Linked DNA regions of Homo sapiens. Each later gene encodes a partner of the first gene's protein in a complex. Each region holds a gene or a part of one and is shown in the gene's direction. Other genes may lie near its edges.

The links.
Region 2: the proteins of ORC3 (region 1) and ORC5 are in contact, whole or in part, in a cryo-EM structure (PDB 7JPO), measured with the Homo sapiens proteins. Residues at the interface, in NP_036513.2 of Homo sapiens: Glu99, Val109, Met144, Lys145, Leu148, His178, Ser180, Met181, Asp182, Glu223, Asp232, Ile235, Ile236, Gln239, His240, Ala253, Thr254, Ser255, Pro256, Ile257, Ile258, Ile259, Arg261, His265, Ser269, Cys272, Ile273, Glu274, Leu275, Ser280; in NP_002544.1 of Homo sapiens: Asn62 (codon at 4,098), Val64 (codon at 4,104), Glu65 (codon at 4,107), Phe67 (codon at 4,113), Thr68 (codon at 4,116), Arg70 (codon at 4,122), Leu71 (codon at 4,125), Gln75 (codon at 4,137), Tyr129, Leu270, Arg271, Ser274, Ser275, Ser276, Gln277, Leu294, His297, Thr298, His299, Val300, Glu301, Leu302, Pro303, Tyr304, Tyr305, Ser306, Asp360, Tyr367, Arg373, Pro376.
Region 3: the proteins of ORC3 (region 1) and ORC4 are in contact, whole or in part, in a cryo-EM structure (PDB 7JPO), measured with the Homo sapiens proteins. Residues at the interface, in NP_036513.2 of Homo sapiens: Thr227, His260, Arg261, Leu262, Leu263, Pro264, His265, Ala266, Ser269; in NP_001177808.1 of Homo sapiens: Pro370, Lys374, Glu377, Gln381, Ser392, Gly393, Asn394, Ser395, Gln396, Arg397.

Annotation. Positions count from the first base shown.
Region 1 is NC_000006.12:87,593,025-87,600,135, forward strand, and holds part of ORC3 (origin recognition complex subunit 3), read left to right. Parts: intron 1-1,326; exon of another isoform or gene 1,327-1,328; coding exon 1,329-1,383; intron 1,384-1,502; exon of another isoform or gene 1,503-1,589; intron 1,590-7,111. UniProt on the Homo sapiens protein: Component of the origin recognition complex (ORC) that binds origins of replication. DNA-binding is ATP-dependent. The specific DNA sequences that define origins of replication have not been identified yet.
Region 2 is NC_000007.14:104,197,927-104,205,037, reverse strand, and holds part of ORC5 (origin recognition complex subunit 5), read left to right. Parts: intron 1-803; coding exon 804-896; intron 897-4,079; coding exon 4,080-4,280; intron 4,281-7,111. UniProt on the Homo sapiens protein: Component of the origin recognition complex (ORC) that binds origins of replication. DNA-binding is ATP-dependent. The specific DNA sequences that define origins of replication have not been identified yet.
Region 3 is NC_000002.12:148,017,687-148,024,683, reverse strand, and holds the start of ORC4 (origin recognition complex subunit 4), read left to right. Parts: upstream 1-3,946; 5' UTR 3,947-4,051; exon of another isoform or gene 4,052-4,076; intron 4,077-6,997. UniProt on the Homo sapiens protein: Component of the origin recognition complex (ORC) that binds origins of replication. DNA-binding is ATP-dependent. The specific DNA sequences that define origins of replication have not been identified yet.

The DNA of each region.
Region 1 (7,111 bases):
AAAGGTTGCAGTGAGCCAGGATCGCACCATTGCACTCCAGCCTGGACGACAGAGCGAGACTCTGTCTCAAAAAAACAAACAAACAAACAAAAAAAAACTATAAGCTATCCATCATGTATGACTTTAGAATTGGTAGAATAGACTAGGACCACTAACTTGGGGGTGATCTACCACTGGTCAAACAATAATATGAAACTAAACATAGCTGGGAAATTACCAGGACAGTTATTTGGCAAGCATTTATTCATTCCATATTCTGATTGCCTAATATGTATGTTAGCACTATTCCAAACATTGGAGAAACAATTATAAATAAAATACAGTTTGTGCTTGAAGGCACTCACAGTCTACTCAGGGAGACACACCCATAAACAACTACGATATACAATTAAAGTGACTTAAAACAATGCAAAATAAAGATGTTCAAGTACTGAGAGATCTCGAGGAAAGGAGAATTTCTGGCTAGAGAATTGTGAAAGGTTTCCTGAAGGAGATGAGTGTTGAGTCAAACTTTAATGGATAAATGAGTAGGCATTTATCAGATGAAGAGAAGTATGTAGAGTGAAACAGCTGCAATTATCTATTTACTACTAAGGTTATAGATACTTCGAGTTTAAATAAGTTTCGGGTTGGGAGAACATCACTATTTTCAACCTTTTTAATCTTCATTTTTATTTATTTATTTTTTGAGACAGAGCTTCGCTCTTTGTTGCCCAGGCTGGAGTGCAATGGCACGATCTCAGCCCACTGCAGCCTCCATCTCCAGGGTTCAAGTGATTCTTCTGTCTGAGCCTCCCGAGTAGCTGGGATTACAGGCTCACACCAACACGCCTGGCTAATTTTTGCATTTTTAGTAGAGACAGGATTTCACCATGTTGGCCAGGCTGGTCTCAAACTCCTGACCTTGTGATCCACCCGCCTTGGCCTCCCAGAGTGCTGGGATTACAGGCATGAGCCACTGTGCCCAGCCCATTTTAATGTGTAGTATTAATTCCTTTAAGTTTATGAAAATGGAACCTTTCTGGGCTTAAATTTAATCAGCTTTTATTTTCTTTGTCTACCTCTTAGATCAGGTGTCAAAGAGCAAAATCAAAAATGGGCATCTCATGGGAGGGAGGGGAGAGAGTAGATAGTCCCCCTTGTTGTTTTAGAATTTTCCTTCTATAGGTCAGAGAGAAGTGATGTGATTTCTTAGAACCTGAAAGAAATGTGTTCTCTCCCCTAACATCTTTTTTTAAAAAAGTGCTTACCCATAAAATATTTGGTTAATCAGATTTCTCTGCTCCTTGGCTACTTTGACTTTATGCTTTTCGTCTTTCTTTTTATAGGGTTGCTTTGTTTTTAAGCCAAACTCCAAAAAGAGAAAGATCTCTCTGCCAATAGGTAAGGTGTCTGAATATTAAATTTTTTATTCCCTACCTTCTTAAACTATTAGGAACTAACCCTAATTGAATTTAGTAATTCTCTTGTCTAACCTTGGCTTACTTGCCATGTTGATGTAGCATTTATGTTCCAAGGCATTGGTCAAAGAGATAAGAGGACACCCCAGGGCTCTAATTGAAAAGAGAATCCAATTACACCTTCCAAAGGTAAGTTGGAAGCAAATTTCCTTCAAAGGATATGCTGCTATTCTTTAAAAGAGATTGTCTTTTTGATTACTTCTCTGCCATTGTTTTTTTATCTACAACTTTAGAAATGAAAGTGAGTTTCTGCTAGAGAAACATTTTGATCCTTGATGAAGTAATCAAAACAATAAAGGCTGACTGGCAACCCAGATTTCTAATGATGGGGGAAATGTTATTTAGAAAATAAAATGATAATTGGTAACATAAGGAAAACCTAAGAAAGAATGATTATAAATTTGTATATATTTTCTAATGAAAATTGTATAAAAATTATTTTTGAGTTAAAATACAATATTCATGGGGAGACTTAAATATGCTTAAAAATTTTGATGTGATATTCCATTTTATGAATAAACTTGGCAAAATAAATTAAAGCAATCATCTATCTGTATGGAGCATTTTAGAACTTAGGGCTTAGTAACTACATGTGTGTTAGAATACTGCATGTTCTAACTTAGGGATAAATGCTGTGCACATCAATACATGCTGAGAAAAAAGCCCAAGGTCTTGGATCTCTTACAGTAATTCTACCTGCTAGAGCACAAAGTTATGGAATCACCTGGACTATAAGTAAAGGAATTGGAGTGTGATCCTGAGCCTGACCAGCTCTATGGCTTTGGCCCTGCTGTTTAACCTTTCCCTAAGTCTCTTCATCTGTAAAATGAGCAACTATACTCACTTATCACTAAGATTTCTCCCTATTCTCATTCTATCTCTCTAAGAGCTAACATGTAGTGCTTTGTAAGACTATCATAAATACCATGTGAATAAATTTGTGTTATTATGGATTGTTACCACCTTGGCCTTATAGTTTGTGTTCCAAGACTCCTATCTCTCACTAGCCTGAGGGAAGGGAAAAAGCTGAGAATGAGTAGCAGAAGACTTTCTACTCTCACAATGGCTACATATTTCCAAGTGGCCCAGATTTCCTCTCTTAGTCTTCACATCCTTTCTACCAGTTTGCACCCTCCATCATCTCTCGGAAGCACCAGGGTCCCACACAGTTCTCAATCACTCTTCATTTCATAAAACAAATTTGTTAAATTATTGAGTTTTAATCACTCATAGACACACATACTCATGATATTAAGGGAGTGGATTTTTATCACTCACTCAGACATACGCATACTCACACACTCATATACCCATGTGTGTAAGAGAGGAAAGACATTTCTTTTGGTTTTGTTTGTTGATTTATTTTAGAGACAGGGTCTCAGTCTGTCACCCAGGCTTCAGTTCGGCGGCCTGATCATAGCTCACTTCAGCCTTGAAAACTCCTGGGCTTAAATGATCCTCCCACCTCAGCCTCCCAAGTACCTGGGACTACAGGCATGCGCTACGACGCCTGGCTAATTATTTTTTAAAATTTTTTGTAGAGACAGGGTCTCACTTTGTTGCCCAGGTTGGTCCTGAATTCCAGGGCTCAAGTGATCCTCCCACCTCAGACCTCAAAGTGCTGGGATTACAGGTGTGAGCCACTGTGCCCAGCCTAATTTGTTTGTTTGTTTTTGTTTTTTTTTTTTGAGACGGAGTCTAGCTCTCAGCATGATCTCAGCTCACTGCAACCTCCGCCTCCCAGGTTCAAGCGATTCTCCTGCCTCAGTCTCCCGAGTAGCTGGGACTACAGGCATGCGCCACAATGCCTGGCTAATTTTTGTATTTTTTAGTAGAGATCGGGTTTCACTATGTTGGCCAGGCTGATCTCGAACTCCCGGCCTTGTGATCTGCCCACCTCAGCCTTCCAAAGTGCTAGGATTACAGGTGTGAGTCACTGTGCTCGGCTGTTTGTTTTTTTGTTGTTTTTTTTTTTTTAAGGCAAAAACAACACAGGTTGTGTTAAAGTCCCAGTGGTTTCCTGGGATGAAGTAGGGGGAATTAACTGCAAAAAGGCAAGAGGGAACTTTCTGGAGTGATGGAAATGTTCTCTGTTGACAGAGTGGTTATGTAAGTATATACCTGGGTCAAACTGTTAAAATGGTTGTGTTTAATTATTTGTAAATTATACCTCAATAAAATTCAATTAATAAAAAAAGATACTGTCTTCACTTTTTTCATTTATATCCTGATACCTGTTTAGTGATCAAATTAAGAAGACTTGACTTCTTCAATCAAATCCAGTATTACTATCAGAATGTATTTATTGCACCGGTTCTCAATCATAGCTTCACATTAGAATCATTTGGGGAACTTTGAAAAGTCTTATTTTAATATAATTGTAGATGCACATATAATTACAGGTAATACTCTTCCACCAGTAAGTACCCTACGACCAGTTATCCCCAGTGGCAGTATCTTACATAACTATAGTACAGTGTCACAATTAAGAAACTGATATTAATACAATCTAGTGACCTTATTCAATTCCAACTTGTGGGACTTTGAAAAAATGCAGGGTGAGAGTTCCTTATCCCAAATCTTGGGACCAGAAGTGTTTTGGTTATTGGAATTTTTTCAGATTTTGAAATATATACCTGTATATAATGAGATAATCTTGGGAATGAGACCCAAGTCTAAAAATAAAATTCATTCATGTTTCATATACACCTTAACCACATAGCCTGAAACGAATTTTACATAATATTTTAAATAATATTGTGCATGAAACAAAGTTTTGGCTGTGTTTTGACTGCGACCTGTCACTTGAGGTGAGATATGGAATTTTCCACTTGTGGCATCATGTTGGTACTCAAAAAGTTTCAGATTCTGGAGGATTTCAGATTTTTGGATTAGAGATGCTCAACCTGTGCCAATGCTAAGACCCTAACCCGGATCAATTGAATTAGAATCTCAAGAGTGGGGCCTAAGTGTTAGAATTTTTCAAAAGCTCCCCACAGGGTTATTGAGTATATACATTCCATATTCAGCACTGTGAAAATTAATTCCAGTGGAAAAATTATGATATGGAATTAAGCATACCCATGTACTAGTTTTGAATTGAAAAAATGAACTATGCCACTGTTTGACTAAGGAAATAAATGGATAACTTGAATATATAGAATAGGATTTTTTTTAAGTAATGATATATATATATACACACACACACACACACACACACACACACATATATATATAATTTTTTTTTAAAATAGAGATGGGATCTTACTATGTTGCCCAGGCTGGTCCTGAACTCCTGAGTTCAAGTGATCCTCCCACCTTGGCCTCCCAAAGTGCTGGGATTACAGGCGTGAGTCACCATGCCTGGCCACACATTTCTTTAATGTTGCAGATTGCTCAACTTACTAGAAATAGGTCAGAGAAAATTAAAGACTTGTTCCCCCATTATCATTAGGGACACATAGCATGCAGTGACATCTAATATCATCACCAATGTAATTATAACTAATACAGTTGTTAATATTTCTTGGATGTTTACAGTGTGCCAGACTGTTTTGTTTTTCAAGACAAGATCTCACTCTGTCACCCAGGCTGGAGTGCAGTGGCACAATCATAGTCCACTGCAAACTTGAGCTCCTGGGCTCCGGGAATCCTCCTGCCTTAGCCTCAGCTAGGACTACAGGCTCATGTCACCTTGCTTGCTAATTTATTTATTTTTTTTTTAAGGTGAGATCTCACTTTGTTGTCCAGGCTGGTCTCAAATCCTGAGCTCAAGCAGTCCACCTGCCTTGGCCTCCCAAAGCGCTGGGATTATAGACCCAGACTGTTTCAATCATTTTATATGTGTTAATTTGATTAATCCCCTCAGCAAACTACAAGGAATGTATTATCGCCATTGAAATATATAAGGATACTTAGACATATAACTTTCTCAATGTTATAATGTTAGTAAATGATAGAGCTAGGATTTGAACCCAACCTGTCTGATTCCAGAGCTCATGATTTAACCATAGCTTAATACTGCCTCTCATTATATAAGGCCAAGTTTCTATTTAGAACTTTTTGTATTGAATTTAAGCTACAACTTATTAGGATTGGTTTATAGTTTTTAGTACTAGTAAACCTGATGTGTATAATTGTATGATTTGAATTTTGCTTTAGAAGTTTGCTAGGCTTTTTTTTTTTTTTCATTATGTGGCTCTAAGACCAACGGGTAGTGTTATAATACGAAAATCTTTGAGGAATTGACCCTGATTATAAGGCAGATGGAGCAGGAATGAGGGAAACATACCCAGACTTTAACATTTGCCTTCACTGGCTTCAGTTGTTGAAACAGATTGACTGAAGAAGTAGGAAGATGCTCTGCATTTTGCCCACCATCTGTCCCCTGACTGAAGACACTTGGGCACGTAATTAAGACTGGTAACTCTCCCTCTCCTCAGTATTCTGTGGATGACTGCATATCCAGCAAAACAACTGGATAGGAACTGGAGAGAGAGAGACTGGCAGCAGCACTGGCACTGTAGGAGATACCCACACTGAAGTATAGCACTGTGAATAGGAGCCGAGGCAGGTAGAAACCTGGCAACAGTGAGAGCTTATATTCTTCAGTGTAGTTTTTAAATTTACCTACCTGATCTGTAACAGACTGAGAGAAGTCATGGTAACAGTTTAAAGTATCCTACTGCTGTGTTTCCCAGTTTCTAAGAGGTTTTTCATGTGTATTTTGATGCGGCATTATTCTGCACATAAAAATTGTGTCTTGATTTGCCACTTTCATGTTATGCTATGATTTTACCTATTAATGTAAAGTGACTATTTTTGTTCTTTTTAAAGCTACCTTGTTGTTCTGCTTTGTCTCTTTTTTTTATTATTTATTTATTTATTTATTTATTTATTTTGAGGCAAGGTTTTGCTCTGTCGCCCAGGCTGGAGTGTAGTGGCACAATTTCAGCTCACTGCAACCTCTGCCTCCCAGGTTCAGGTGATTCTCCTGCCTCAGCCTCCTGAGTACCTGGGACTACAGGTGTATGCCACCACGCCCGGCTAATTTTTGTATTTTTAGCAGAGATGGGGTTTCACCATGTTGGCCAGGGTGGTCTCCAAGTCCTGAGCTAATGAACCGCCCACCTTGGCCTCCCAAAGCGCTGGGATTACAGGCATGTGCCACCACGCTGGCCTGCTTTGTCTCTTAATAATAGTGTCCTCTGGCTAGGTGGGGTGATGTACGCCTGTAATACCAGCACTTTGGGAGGCCAAGGTGGGCAGATCACTTGAGGTCAGGTGTTCAAGACCAGCCTGGCCAATGTGGTGAAACCCCGTCTCTGCTAAAAATATAATTAGCCAGATGTGGTCGCGGGCGCCTGTAGTCCCAGCTACTCGGGAGGCTGAGGCAGGAGAATCACTTGGACCTGGGAGGCGGAGGTTGCAGTAAGCTGAGATCTCACCACTTCACTCCAGCCTGGGCAACAGAGCGAGACCCTGTCTCAAATAATAGTAATAGTAATAATAGTGTCTCCTTGCTTTCTTTTTTTGTTGGCATTTTAATTCTATAACCTTGTCTGCCACTTTACCGTACGATGACTTCAATGTATTCCAAGGCTTTTGATAAAATTAAAAATCAATAGTTGCTAAAAACTCTGAGTTAACTA
Region 2 (7,111 bases), on another chromosome or scaffold:
ACTATAATTTCCTCCAAAGTAGATAATGTCTTTTACTGTTATTTGTTCTCTTCAGTACCTCATGGTTTTCAGCATTTAGTAGGTATCTAATGAAAGCGTTCATTTAAGGAATGAAGTACAAGTATTTGTAGTATTAACTAGACCAGAGAGACCTTTGACAATATTTACTTTTCTCTAAGCTGCTAACCTAATGTACTGCAAGAGGATCTTGCACATATGTATTTTAAAATAAATGCTATGCAGATTTTATTAGTGTTTTATGTGATCTAATGTATGCATTTATGCCAGCATCAGTGAGTATGCATAGTTCAGAAGTAGTCTATAAGTTTTCCTAAGAATGAGGACCCTTGAAATTCCTTTTAATCTTTTGATTATATGTACTTTATTTCATAGCATTAAAATGTATAGTGAAGTTGTGGCATCGCAGGAGATAAGAGTCTTTAAGAAGGAGTAATATAAAAATGGAGTATGAACAAAATTATCCTTGAAAAATCTCTTAAATCTGCTATGAAGTTGAAAATACTAGTTTGTATATGTAAACCTGTACGATAATAAAAATATAAATATATAGTACATAATAAAATATGCCAAATATGTTACATACATTTTAATTTCATAACAAAGAAAGTGCTTAGAGTTGAATTCAAGTAGGTTCAAAGTGTGTTGATGCATCCACAATATGCTCATTGTTAGGAATTTGGATTGAATATTTCACTTTTCCACGTACAACTTTCTCACAAGTTGATAAGTGTTTATTTTCTATTTTGTATGTGCAGCCTCATATTTGTCTTTTCTCTCGTTAGAGACATCATTTCAGCTTTCCATCCATTTTTATTTATGGACATACTGCTAGTGGAAAGACCTATGTAACACAAACGTTGTTGAAAACTTTAGAGGTAAGAATAAAAATATTAAATATTTCTTTGCCATTTTTAGTGTATAATATTGGTACTGATAATTGTGAATCTCCACAAATGCAAAATTGAACATACCACCTTTACATTACTCTCCTTCCCATATTATCTTTCTCCATGAATGGTCTACTGTCATTGACACAGTTGTCCAAACTTGCACTTTCTTAACTCTTTCCTCATCTTCCCTCATTTAGTAAATCACATCAATAAACTTAGTCTGTTGCTTCACATTGTTAAAATCATGTCTCCATCTACCTTTAATCCTAGCCATTGCTGCTAGGATTTTCATTTACCATTGTTTTTTTTCCATGTATTTCTGTAAGCCTCTTATTTGCAATCTTCACCCAGCAGCTAGGCCATGCAAATCTTAATATTTTCAGGACAGTGTTCAAGTAATTCGCCCATTGTATAAGACCTTTCATGAGCTGAATTTATCTTTCATAACACAGTGGTTAAGAGTTTGGGCTGTGGAGTCTGGCAGACTCATGTTCCTTTTTGGATTCACCAGTTAGTGCTTTCTCCATCTGCAAAGTTGGCTCATAGTGACAACATTTGGGATTAAGAGAATTAAATGTTAGCACATGGAAAGTGCTTTCTGCAGTACATAGTGCGTAGTAAGCACTCAATAAAGGTTAGCTGCTATTATTGATGAGTATTGCCATACTCCCTTTCATATCCTAAACCAGAGATGGGCAGTCTTTTTCTTAAGGGCCGGATAACTAACATTTTGTGCTTGTGGACCACGTAGTTTCTGTCTCACCTGCTTGACTCTACTGTATTGTGAAAGCAGCCATGGGCATTCTCTATGTGAATGGGCATGACTGTGTTTCAAAGCAACAGTATGTACAAAAACAGGTGGCTAGCCCACAGGCTTTGGCTTGCTAACCCCGTCCTCCTCTAGCACTGAGGATGCACGTTTAGGATAGCATACTGAACTGTGTACAGTTCCTGCTGTCTTACTTTCAAGCCATGGCACATGTTGCTCCCCTACTTGGAATGGCTTTCCTGTACTCGCTCTTCCTGTTGCTTGGCAAATGCTTATTTATTTTGCCAGGTTTTCTTCTACTTATACTCTACAAGGTCTTTCCTGATCCTCTAGGCTGTATCAGATGCCCCCCTGTTTTGCAACCTTAGCACCCTGTGCTTAATTCTGTCATAATATTTAGCCTTCTCAGCTATGATTTTGTGTTTATGTTTCCCTGGCTTTAGATTGTGAGTTTCTTGAAATTATCCCCAGCACCAAGCACATTACTTGGCACGTATTAACTTGTGGATTTCAGCTTATTAAGTTGTAGATTTCAGCTTTTGATCTCAAAGATCAGCTGTGCATTTTAAAAAACACATATGCCTGGGCTATATACTGGACTTCAGAATCTGAGTGTACAAGGTCTTGGTCCAGGCATTTGCATTTCAGAACCCCCTGAATGAAGTGCCCCCAAAATATATGTTGAATAAAAGCAATAAAACCCAGTAAGGAAGTTTCATATTTAAGGACTGTATTCCATTTTTTATCACACTGTAGTTTCTGCTGTTACTTAATCAGTGTAATATATGATTATTGTTACTACTTCTGATACAGGGACTCAGACAGGCACTTAGAATATGCTGCCTTTAAAAGTCATGGATGGTACAAATGCCGTAAGCAAGACACTATTCATAACAGAGATGTTGTGGACTTTTGTTCTTAAAGGACAGTAAAGGAGTGAGAGAGAAGTGAGTTAGCAAATGCTGGTGAAACTGTCCCCAAGTAAGTTTAATGTGGCTTTAGTGACACTGTTATTCAGAGAAAGAAAAGCCTCCTTATTGGATAAAGTTTATAAAATCACTAAAAATAGTTACCAGTTCCATTATTTGTGCCAAGTGCCACAAGTTATCTTCCTCAGAATGAATCTGCTTTTGTGATCTTATTTTGAGGATAGACTGTATTGGTGAGCAAGTCTCGTTTGTGACCTTATTACTTCTGGAGTTAACTCATGTTGATATTTTGATAGTTTTTTAAATGAAGGGCTAGTTTTTTTTGTTTTGTTTTGTTTTTAAATGGGGTCTTGCTCTATTGCCCAGGTTGGAGTGCAGTGTTATGATCATAGCTCATTGCAGCCATGAATTCCTGGGCTCAAGTGATACTTCCACCTCAGCCTCCCAAGTAGCTGGGACTATAGATGTGCACCACCAGGCCTGTCTAATTTTTTTTACTTTTTTAAAGACAGAGTCTCACTGTGTTTCCCAGGCTGATCTTGAACTCCAGGGGTCAAATGATCCTCCCACCCATCCTAAAGCACTGGGATTACAGGCAGGAGCCATATGCCTAGCAAAGAGCTAGTGCTTACAGTCCTCGTAGGAGGATTGCTATGGTTTCTAACTCTTAAAATTCTTTTTTTTTTTGACTTAGTAAACGTTTATTCAAGGATATTATATTAAAGTTATAAGTGTGAAATTCCTATTAAGATTTTTAACATTCAAATATGCTTAGATTTCTTTTCTTTTTTTTTTTTTTTTAATAGTGACAGGGTCTCGCTATGTTGCCCAGGCTGGTCTGGAACTCCTGACCCAAAGCCTTGGGATTACAGACATGATCCACCATGCCTGGCTGATTTCTTTATAAGAATTCTTTATAGGAAAATACAAATTTGCTTTGAATTTCCATAAGAAAGAAATGGCAAGCTGAAAGAAATAATTGAAGTGAGTTTAATGAAGGGACAGTTTTATAATGGAAATTTTATGGGAATCACTAAGGGATGATGGTACACCAGGGCCTTTACCACCTCCAGGCCTGAAGGGACCATAGAAAGGAGCTGTTATTGGAACCAAACAAGAGGTGTAGCCTTAGAAGAGGGGCTGTCCAACTTGATCTTTGGTAGAAGAGTATCCACTGCCAAGCTAGGGCCACTGAGGGGTCATGGTGGGAGTCAAGGAAATCAATATCCAAACTTCTCTCCCACCATTCTCCCTTAGTCTCCTGCTGGTTCTTTCCATTGGCTTCTCCATCCAGAGACAGAAAATAAGAGAGTCCAGGTGATGTAATTCTGTAGCTGTCAGGCTCTTGGGGCATGGGGTGGGTTTGGTGGGATATAGATTTAGAAAGGCAAATGGAGACTATCCAGCACAGCCATTATTGTGTTTGTGTGTTTTCTTCTTTACTTACAGTGTTTTGGTTTTCGTTTTCAGCTCCCACATGTGTTTGTGAATTGTGTTGAATGCTTTACATTGAGGCTGCTTTTGGAACAAATTTTAAACAAATTGAATCATCTTAGTTCTTCAGAGGATGGATGTTCTACTGAAATAACCTGTGAAACATTTAATGACTTTGTTCGCTTGTTTAAACAAGTAACCACAGCTGAAAATCTTAAAGATCAGACTGTATATATTGTAAGTAATTTCATTTGATTAGATCATCTCTTATCTTGAAAACTGATAATTTATTAGATCAATTTTCATATATTTGTTTTGAGTCTCATTATGTACAGTGCTCTGTGCCAGGTGCTTTTAGTATACAGAAATGTATTAAATATATTCCTTATCCAAGGGAAGCTTCATTTAATAGAAAAGGTATGACACATACATACGACTACATGCAGAATGTGATAAGTGATTGTCACCAGATGCAAAATATTGACTGTGTGTGTCCAATACAGCTTCATGAGGTATTAGCATTTGAGACAGACCTAAATGAATCAGAGTATTCTAGGAAGAAATTGAAGTAGAGGAATTTCAGATAGAATTATATAAGTAAAGGCATGCAGCTGAAAATGGAGGCCAGAGAGTACCAAATAGTCTAGTTTTAGTGGGTTATAAAGTATGACGGGAGAAAAAGAAGACTGGAAGATAGGTTGGGCAGATTGTGGAAGGTCTAGAAAACTATACTAAAGCACTTCATTTAATTTCTTAGGGAGTGGATAGGAGATAGTAAAGACTTTAGAGCAACAAATATGCCTGGTTACTCTGAAGACATGTTAAAATGATCATCTTTGGAATTGGATAAGAACTACCCAAGACTGGATAGTTTATAAAGGAAAGAGATTTAATTGACTTACAGTTCAGCGTGGCTGGGGAGGCCTCAGGAAACTTATAATCAGCAGAAGGCAAAGGGGAAGCAAGGCACCTGCTTCACAAAGTAGAAGGAAGGAGAAGCTCCTTATAAAATCGTCAGATCAGATGTGAGCTCACTATCACAAGAACAGCATGGGGGAACCACCCCCAAGATTCATTTACCTCCACCTGGTCTCTCCCTTGACACATGGAGATTATGGAGATTACAAGTTAAGATGAGATTTGGATGGGGACACAAAGCCTGACCACACCATTCCACACTTGGCCTCTCCCAAATCTCATGTCGGTTTCACATTTCAAAGTCAACTGTGGCTTCCCAATAGTCCCCCAAAGTCTTAACTCATTCCAGCTTAATTAGCCCAAAAGTCCAAGTCCAAAGTCTCATCTGAGATAAGGCAAGTCCCTTCCACCTATGAGCCTATAAAATCAAAAGTAAGTTAGTTACTTTCTAGATACAATGGAGATACAGGCAATGGGTAAATACAGCCTTTTCAAATGGGAGAAATTGGCCCAAACAAAGGGGCTGTAGGCCCCAAGAAAGTCTGCAATCCAATAAGGCAGTCATTAAACTTTAAAGTTCCAAAATGATCTCCTTTGACTCCATGCCTCACATCCAGCCCACTGATGCAAGAGTGGGCTCCCACAGCCTCATGCAGCTCGACCTCTGTGGCTCCATGCCTCACATCCAGCCCACTGATGCAAGAGTGGGCTCCCATGGCCTTGTGCAGCTCCACCTCTGTGGCTTTGCGGGGTACAGTTGCCCTCTCTGCTGTTTTCACAGGCTGGCGTTGAGTATCTGTGGCTTTTCCATGCACACAGTGCAAGCTGTTGAATCTGCCATTCTGGGGTCTGGAGGATGGTGGCCCTCTTCTCATAGCTCCACTAGGCAGTGCCCAGTGGGGACTCTGTAGGGGGGGTCCAACCCCACATTCCCCTTCTGTACTGCCCTAGTAGAGGTTCTCCATGAGGGCCCTGCACCTACAGCCAACTTCTGCCTGGACATCCAGGCATTTCTGTACATCCTCTGAAATCTAGGCAGAGGTTCCCAAACGTTAATTCTTGATTGCTGTGCACCTGCAGGCCCCACATGTAAGCCGCCAAGGCTTGGGGCTTGCACTCTCTGAAGCAACAGCCTGAGCTATACGCTGGCCCCTTTTAGCCATGAGTGGGGATGCAGGACACCAAGTTCCGAGACTGCACAAAGCAGCAAGGCCCTGGCCCACAAAACCATTTTTCCCTCTTAGGCCTCTGGGCCTGTAATGGGATGGGCTGCCACGTGAAGACCTTGGAGACATTTTCCCCGTTGTCTTGGCTGTTAACATTTGGCTCCTTGTTACTTATGCACATTTCTGCAGCTGGCTTGAATTTCTCCCCAGAAAATGGGTTTTTTCTTTTCTACCTCATGGTCTGGCCACAGATTTTCCAAAGTTTTATGCTCTGCTTCCCTTTTAAATGTAAGTTCCAGTTTTAGATAATCTCTTTGTGAATGCATATGACTGAATGCTTTCAGAATCAGCCAGGTCACCTGTTGAATGCTTTGCTGCTTAGAAATTTCTTCCACCAGATACCCTAAATCATCTTTCTCAAGTTCAAAGTTCCACAGATCTCTAGGGCAGGGGCAAAATGCCACCCTTCTCTTTGCTAGAGCATAGCAAGAGTCACTTTTATTCCCTGTCCCCAATTAGTTCCTCATGTCCATCTATGACCACCTCAGTCTGTACTTCATTGTCCATATCACTATCAACATTTTGGTCAAAGCCATCTAACAAGTCTCTAGGAAGTTGCAAACTTTCCCATTTCTTCCTGTCTTCTGAGCCCTCCATCCTGTTCCAACCTCTGCCTATTACTCAGTTGCTATAACAGACTACCAAGGACTGGGTAATTTATAAAGAAAAGACATTTATTTCTCACAGTTGTGGAGGTTAGGAAGTCAAAGGTTGAGGTCCCTGCATCTGGCAAGGGCTTTCTTGCTGCCTCCTCTCATGATGAAAGTAGAAGTACAAGAGAGGATGAGAGTGAGAGCAAGAGGTGGCAGAAGTCCCTTTTATAATAAAGCCATTCTCTCAATAACCCACTCCCTTGATAACAATATTAATTCATTCATGAGGACAGAGCCCTTATGACTTAATCATCTTTTATGCAGCTTCTCT
Region 3 (6,997 bases), on another chromosome or scaffold:
GCTGTTAATTAGATAAAATGAGAGCCACAGTAGAGATAAAGAAAAAATGTTCATGATAGTGAAAATTGTGGCAAGGGAGGACAAGAAAAGGAGAGGAAAGGAATTCCACATATGGAAGTAAAGAAATTCAAATATGCCTAACTCTAAAACTAACATGGATTATGACAAGCTACCAGTAGGAACTACTGTGTACCAGATATTGTGCCAAGAGTAGAAGGATGTGTTAACAAAACAAAAATGTTTGTTTTTAGGCAGTTCATAGGGCAAGACTCACAAGTAAGCATTTATAAGAGAATATGCATTCCATTTATTCTTATAAGTATGGGCCCTTAATACAACAGTAAGTATATTTACTGATTAATTGTAAGTGCAGGAGGAAAATAAGTATTAGAGAAAGCTGAAATTATTTTCAAAATAGTAATAACCTACAATAAGTGCAATTAGTACTTTAAAAAATTAACAAATTACTAAATTTAAGTAGACAAAATAATAGCTTTAAAGCCATTTACCTTAATATTCTTACAATAACATGCTCCCATATGAAACCCTCAAGTGGTATACCCAGAACTGTACATAATAGTTTCATTTCTGACAAAGGAAATGAGGTAGTGCAGCATAGTGAGCATCAGGAGACCTGAGTTCCCTGGTCCCTGCTCTGTCACTTCCAGGCCTTGGAACCTCAGGCAAGTTCAAGTTCTTAGAACTTCAGCAATAGGTAGAGTTGGATAAAGTGACCTCCAAGATACCACCCAGTTGAACAATTACAATCCTAAAGTATCAATGGTTCTTAATACTTAAAAAGGTTTTCTAAACATAAATCATTATCCAACTTAGATAAAGTCTGCAATCTTCTAACCATAAAGGATCATGGGGGTGAGGGTGAGGGGTGTGATAAAAAAATGTTTAAAAAAAAAAAAGAAACAAAATAAGGAAAGACATTAAACTCAAGACTAAATTTTTACTCAGCTGCCTACTGGGCAACTACCACCCCAATTATCTACATAATTCCCTTACCTAAAATTAATTTCTTCAGTAAGTTCTACTGTCTCTCTCTTACCTTTAAAGTTGCTGAGGTTTTAAGGTGAGAACAAGAAACCTTACAAGGACTTGGAATGGCAGTATTGATGTTGGGAGAAAAACTTGAACTTGGCACAGATTTCTGCTTAAGTGCACTAATTACATCTCAGAGAAAGGTAAAAAATTGTTCAAATTTATAACAGAAGGGAAATAAGATCATATTGTTTACTGCTATAAAGCTTTTTTATTTCGGTATGTAAATGTCTACTTTTGCACACAGTTGATAATTAAAATTTTACAGAACAAGTTTCTACATATGCAATGCTTCACTGTCACTAAAATATATGTTTTAGCTTTAACCATCAAGAAAATAAAAAATTAGAAGTATTATCATGTCTTTATAATATTTTTGCCAAATATCCTTCTAGATTTATATTTCTTCAATCCTTTCTAGTTGATCAAATTGCTGTTTTCATATTGCCAGTCTGATCACAAAATTGCTGCTTTACAGAAGAATATTTTTTGCTGACATAAATTATGGGATCAGAGATACCAATGCAGTTACAAAAAAAAAAAAAAGGGTGTGAGGGAGAGAGAGCGAGCGAAAGAGAGTGTGTGTATATGCATGTGTGCATCCATCTTCAAGGAAAGAATAAAGAAATGTATATATGAAACAAAATAACACTTTCCAATATAAGCCCTAGTAAAAGGCCTACATCAGAAACATACTTTCTAACATTTGTGAAATAAAATACAGCACTGAATTTTAAAGCTATGCACTAAGAACACATTATACAAAAATGAAGTGATTTTTATCAATATTGTTATTCCATAAACTTAAATCTGGATTTACCTTTCAATTTATAGCTAACTGAAATTAATATACTAACTATAAGTTCATGATTTCTTTGACTCATGAAAACATATTTTAGAAATTTGTGTACTTTTACATACAGTGGGCAATTTGGTTCAGAACCCCAAGAGAAATTGAGATGAAAAACTCATCTCAATTTACAACAGTAAATAAATAATTCAGCTAAAACTGAAAGTGGTACCAATCCAGCAAACTATTGATGGAGAGGTTTGGCCTTCCATGCAGCCAGAACAACATAAAGTTTTCAATGGGGATTACTTGTTCAGACAAGTTACAAAGATTACAAATATACCCAGATTAATTATAAAATAGCTAATATTCTCATCATATGGAAAATAAGTATCAGGAACGTATGTGGGAACAGACAATAGCAGTGGCATTTAAACTTTAAGCATTTTAGAGCTTTGGACTTTATATACTGATATATGAAACAGACATTTAACCAAAAAAAAAGCAATAATGCAAGTCAAAACCTAACCAAAGGCCTCTACCAACTAAAAATTTGAAATTTTCCATGGAAGTCAGACAAAACGAAAAAATGGAAAATGAAACCCTTAAAGCAAAAACCAATCAAGTCTTCCAACACTGAAGTCAATATCCAAATCTCATACAGGACCAAAAAGGGGAAAACACTCAGGTCTACAAATGGATAAGCAGTTCCAATACAATCCAGATCCCGACATTTTCCCACTCAGAAACAAATGCAGTGGAGCTTTTCCTGGAGAAAAAGAGCTCTCCAATGAATTTTTTTTAAGTGACATCTAGAAAGTGTGCCTCTTTCTGTCTCTTTCCCTGGCGCCTCATTGGAGGAAGGAGGGGGTTGTTTTTGTATTCTCCCCCACTGGAGCAAGACACAATCAGATGTTAGATGGAGGAGAGAAACCACTTTTGACAACAGCAAATAAAAATAAAAGTGCCCTTCCTCCCCTGACAGGATGGGCACCCCACCTCACACACCCCTCCCTACTCCAACCCCTCCTTCACCCCCCCCAGCACCACCCCCTCCTCACCCCGGAGCTCCACTGCGTATGTGGTTTGGTGCTACTGTTGCCCCGGAGTGAAAGTCAGAGCCAGAGGAAGGCAATGAAGCCCCCACAGACACACTTACCTTTCCTGCCCCCCACTTTTGAGTGCCTTCCCTGGAGCTGTGGAGGATGACACAAAGGGTAATAAAGGGGGGGAGTGGAGGAGGAGGAGGCGAAGGAGGAGGAGGAGAGCTGGGGAAGTGGCTGCTCCTGGGTGTAGTGAGATGTCTCCAGCCAGGGCCAAGCAGCAGCAGTAGCAGCAGCAGCAGTAGCAGCAGCAGCAGCAACAGCAGCAGCAGCAGCAACAGCAGCAGCAAAGGGTCTGTGTTGCTAAGAGGCTTTTGGTTTCTTTCTCTCCTCCTCTCACGGCCAAAGAGGAGGAGGGTGGAGGGAGGGAGGCGAGTTGGAGGGGTGAGGGGGTAGGAGTCGTGGATGGGGGTTTTCGAAGAAGAAGAAACTCCTTCTCCTCTCTCAGGCTCAATCCCCCTCTCAGGGCTCAGGGCTGGAGGGTGGGGGAAGGAACTCAGCCGCCTTCCCCCCACCCCCCTGAATTCAAGGTTGAAGTGGGGTAGAATTAGTGTCCTGTCCCTTTAAAAATAGAAATAAAAGGTGCCCCCCCTCTGCCACTGCCTCTCTCTTCATCATCAGCTGCTGCTGCTGCTGGGGTCTCTCTGCTTGGGGGGGAGGGGGGGTTCGGGTAGAAGAGACGGGAGGCACTCACTGCGCATGTCCCTCTCTGACGGGTGGCTGGTTGGTTGAAGGCAGGAGGAGGGGGAGGGGAGGAAATGAGCTATTTTCCCAGAAGGCGTCGAGGCGCTAGCGACCCGGAAGACATTGTAGCGGGAGGTACAGGAGCGGGGGCGGGGAGGAGGAGGAAGTCGCTACGCTTTTAACACCCCCAGCTCCCTCCTCCTTCCTAAGGGAAAGTGGAGGAACGGAAGTGGGCGTGGACGGAGACGAAAGGAGGTCACGTGTTTGGGCGGGAGAGGGGCGGGGTGGGAGAGGTAGTGCGTGCGCGGGGCATGCCGGGAGTGGTTGTGTACGGTCCGCAGCGGCAGGTGAAGTCTAGCAGAGGACGCGGCCAGGCGATTCGGTGAAGCGATTCCTGCAGGCGTTGGTTCCCCTCTTTGACCTGGTAAATGCAGGCTTTTATGCGAGAGGTAATGGTGGGGGTAAACTTGCTGCAAACGAAGGCCAGGGGCGTCGGTGGCGCAAGGTGAATCGAAAGTGGGAGGATGGAAGGCTGTGGAGATTGGGAATTGGGAAGGGGGCAGGCTTGTATAGGCCGGGAAGGCCAGGACCAGGCGAGCTCCGTCTTGTGGCCACTCCCGCCCCGTGAGCTTGCCGAGGAATCCTTGACAAGTGCAGGGATCCTGAGTCTACCTCTGCATCGGGGTAGTAGGTGAGGAGCGTGACGGTCCGAGTGTAAGAGAGAAGGGAACTGTGAAGCCTCAGCAATTGACCCTCATGACTGCAGGACGGAGGACTTCTATCTAGGGACAGAGACAAGTCCTCTGTATGCATTTTGACCAGATGCATCACACGCGTTGCTCATATTGGATATTGCGCCCTTCATGCCTTACCTCTCAACCCTCCCTGGTATTCTGGAGTGGCTTTGGGGAAGGAGCAGGCAGGGAAGTCTTGAGTGGAGCTTCCCTCCATGTCTTGCGTTGTTGCTACAACACAAAGCCTTTGCTTTTTCTCGGAGAGGGATGTGGGATTGTGTAGTCCTTAATGTTGAGTTCTACGATTGATGAAGGAGAAGGGACGTGATCAAAGTTTCCCCTTATAGTGTAGATGAGAGTTTTAAAAGGACTGTTTTGTCAAGTTTCTTTGGTTACTATTCTTAGTTTTTGAGCCTTTGGTTTCCCAAATGCCAGCTGTTTTTGCTGAAAATAATGAATTTCTATCATAAAATTAGAATTAACTCAAAATATTTAAGAAAGGATTTATAAATTTACATTAGTAAAGCTTTTATAGTGAAACAGTGCTGGTTCTTTTTCATTGTTTTCATACAATCAATATAAAGCATCACAGTCTCAATATGTTTTGTAAAGATATTTTGAAGGAATATCATCTTTGTATGTTTTTTAAAAACCAAGAATCTAAAATTCTTCGTATTTATTATGTTGGTACTTAATTCTGTTGGGTGGGTTCTTTTTGTTTGTTTTTTGTTTTGAGACGGAGTCTCGCTCTGTCTCCCAGACGAGTGCAGTGGCGCGATCTCGGCTCACTGCAACCTCTGTCTCCTGGGTTCAAGCAGTTCTCCTGCCTCACCCTCCCGAGTAGCTGAAACTACAGGCATGTGCCACCACGCCTGGCTAATTTTTTTGTGTTTTCAGTAGGGACGGGGTTTCACCATGTTGGTCAGGCTGGTCTCGATCTCTTGACCTCAAATGATCCTCCCGCCTCGGCCTCCCAAAGTGCTGGGATTACAGGCGTGAGCCACCGCGCCCGGCCGGTGTAGGTTCTTTAGGTGTACACTATCAGTTAAAGTTACTAATTTTCCACGTTTTGCTTTCTGTAAGTTTGGGCAGTGGACCCCGTTTATGCATCATTGCTTAGCCCTTAGTATCTTCTGTATTGTGTACGGTAATCATGTCCGATGGAATCAAAACTAGACTCCTGTGCTTTAAAATTTTCTTTGTAGTGTAACCAATTGTCTGTCTTTATAGTGTAACCAATTGTCTGCCACTTTGTAATGAAAAAAAAAAATACCAGCAAGGCAGTTAATGTGCCTTAGCTACAATTTTAAATATTTTGTGTCTTTTTCCATACATTTAGTATTTAAGCATACAAACATCGATACATAGTATAATGAAAAACTATAAAGTGTGAACTCTATGTAAGCGCTGCCACAGTCAAGAACTAGAACGTCTGTGGCACCTGAGAAGCTCCCCTCTCCATTCTATTCCTGATCATCCCTTTCCTCAATTCTTTTCAGTGGTTAACACTATACTGATTTTTATGGCAATCATTTACTGCTTTCTTTCTTAGTATTTCTTAACCACCTATGTCAGCATTCCTAAGCAATTTAGGTTCGTTTTGCCTGTTTCTTAATTGTATGTAAGTGGATTATATATTACATATCATTATGTATCTTTTTCTCTCATGCAGCTGGGATATAACTCTATTAGTACATTTAGCTCTAGTTCTTATATTGGATTGTAGTAATCTATAGTATAATAAGTATAGTATAAAAAGTCTTAATGGAAATGAGCCACAGTTTAGTCTAATATTAATAAACATTTGGATTGTGTTCCGTTTTTAGTAGTTATGAACAATGCTATTATGAATGTTCTTGTACATGTATTCTTAATGTACATTACCATGGGTTTTTGTAGAGTACGTATGTTTATCTTCAACTTCACTAGTTATGCCTTTTCCAAAGTAGATACACCAATGTATACCCCGACAGCAGTATATGGTAGATCCCTTTACTTTTACTGTCTCACCAAGAGTTATTTTTCCTTTTTCCCAACTTGATGAATGTGGCTTTATCTTATTGTTGTTTTAATTTATTCTGCCCAGGACACTAAAGAGTTTGAGCACTTTTTCAAAAACTTACCGGCTATTTGAATTTCCTCTTTCTAGAATTGTCTTTTTAATTCTTAAATCTTTTGTGCATTGTCTTTTTAAATCTTTTTGGGAGGTTTTTTTGTTTGTTTGTTTTTTGTTTTAATTGGGTTGTCTGTTTTACTCAGGGATTTCTAGCAGTATGGCCAATATCTTCTCTGTGCTTGGAGCATTACTCTCTTCTGGGATGGCAACTTTTATCTTCATGTAGGTCTTATAGGCTGTCATTGTTCTTTGAATTGTATACGTAGTTTAAACTCCAGATAACAAGTTCTATGCTTGTGCTATTCATTGCAGTAGCTACTAGCTGCGTGTGGCTTTTGAGCACTTGAAATGTGGCTAGTATGACTGAGGAACTGAATTTTTAGTTTTATTTAGTGTTCAATTAAGTTTAAAAACTGACACTTGATTCAGTTACTGTAAAACCTGTATGTTTGGAACAACTCGGATACATAAACCTTTCTTAACCGCAAATTATTAAATTATTATTTTTTAATTTTTGGAG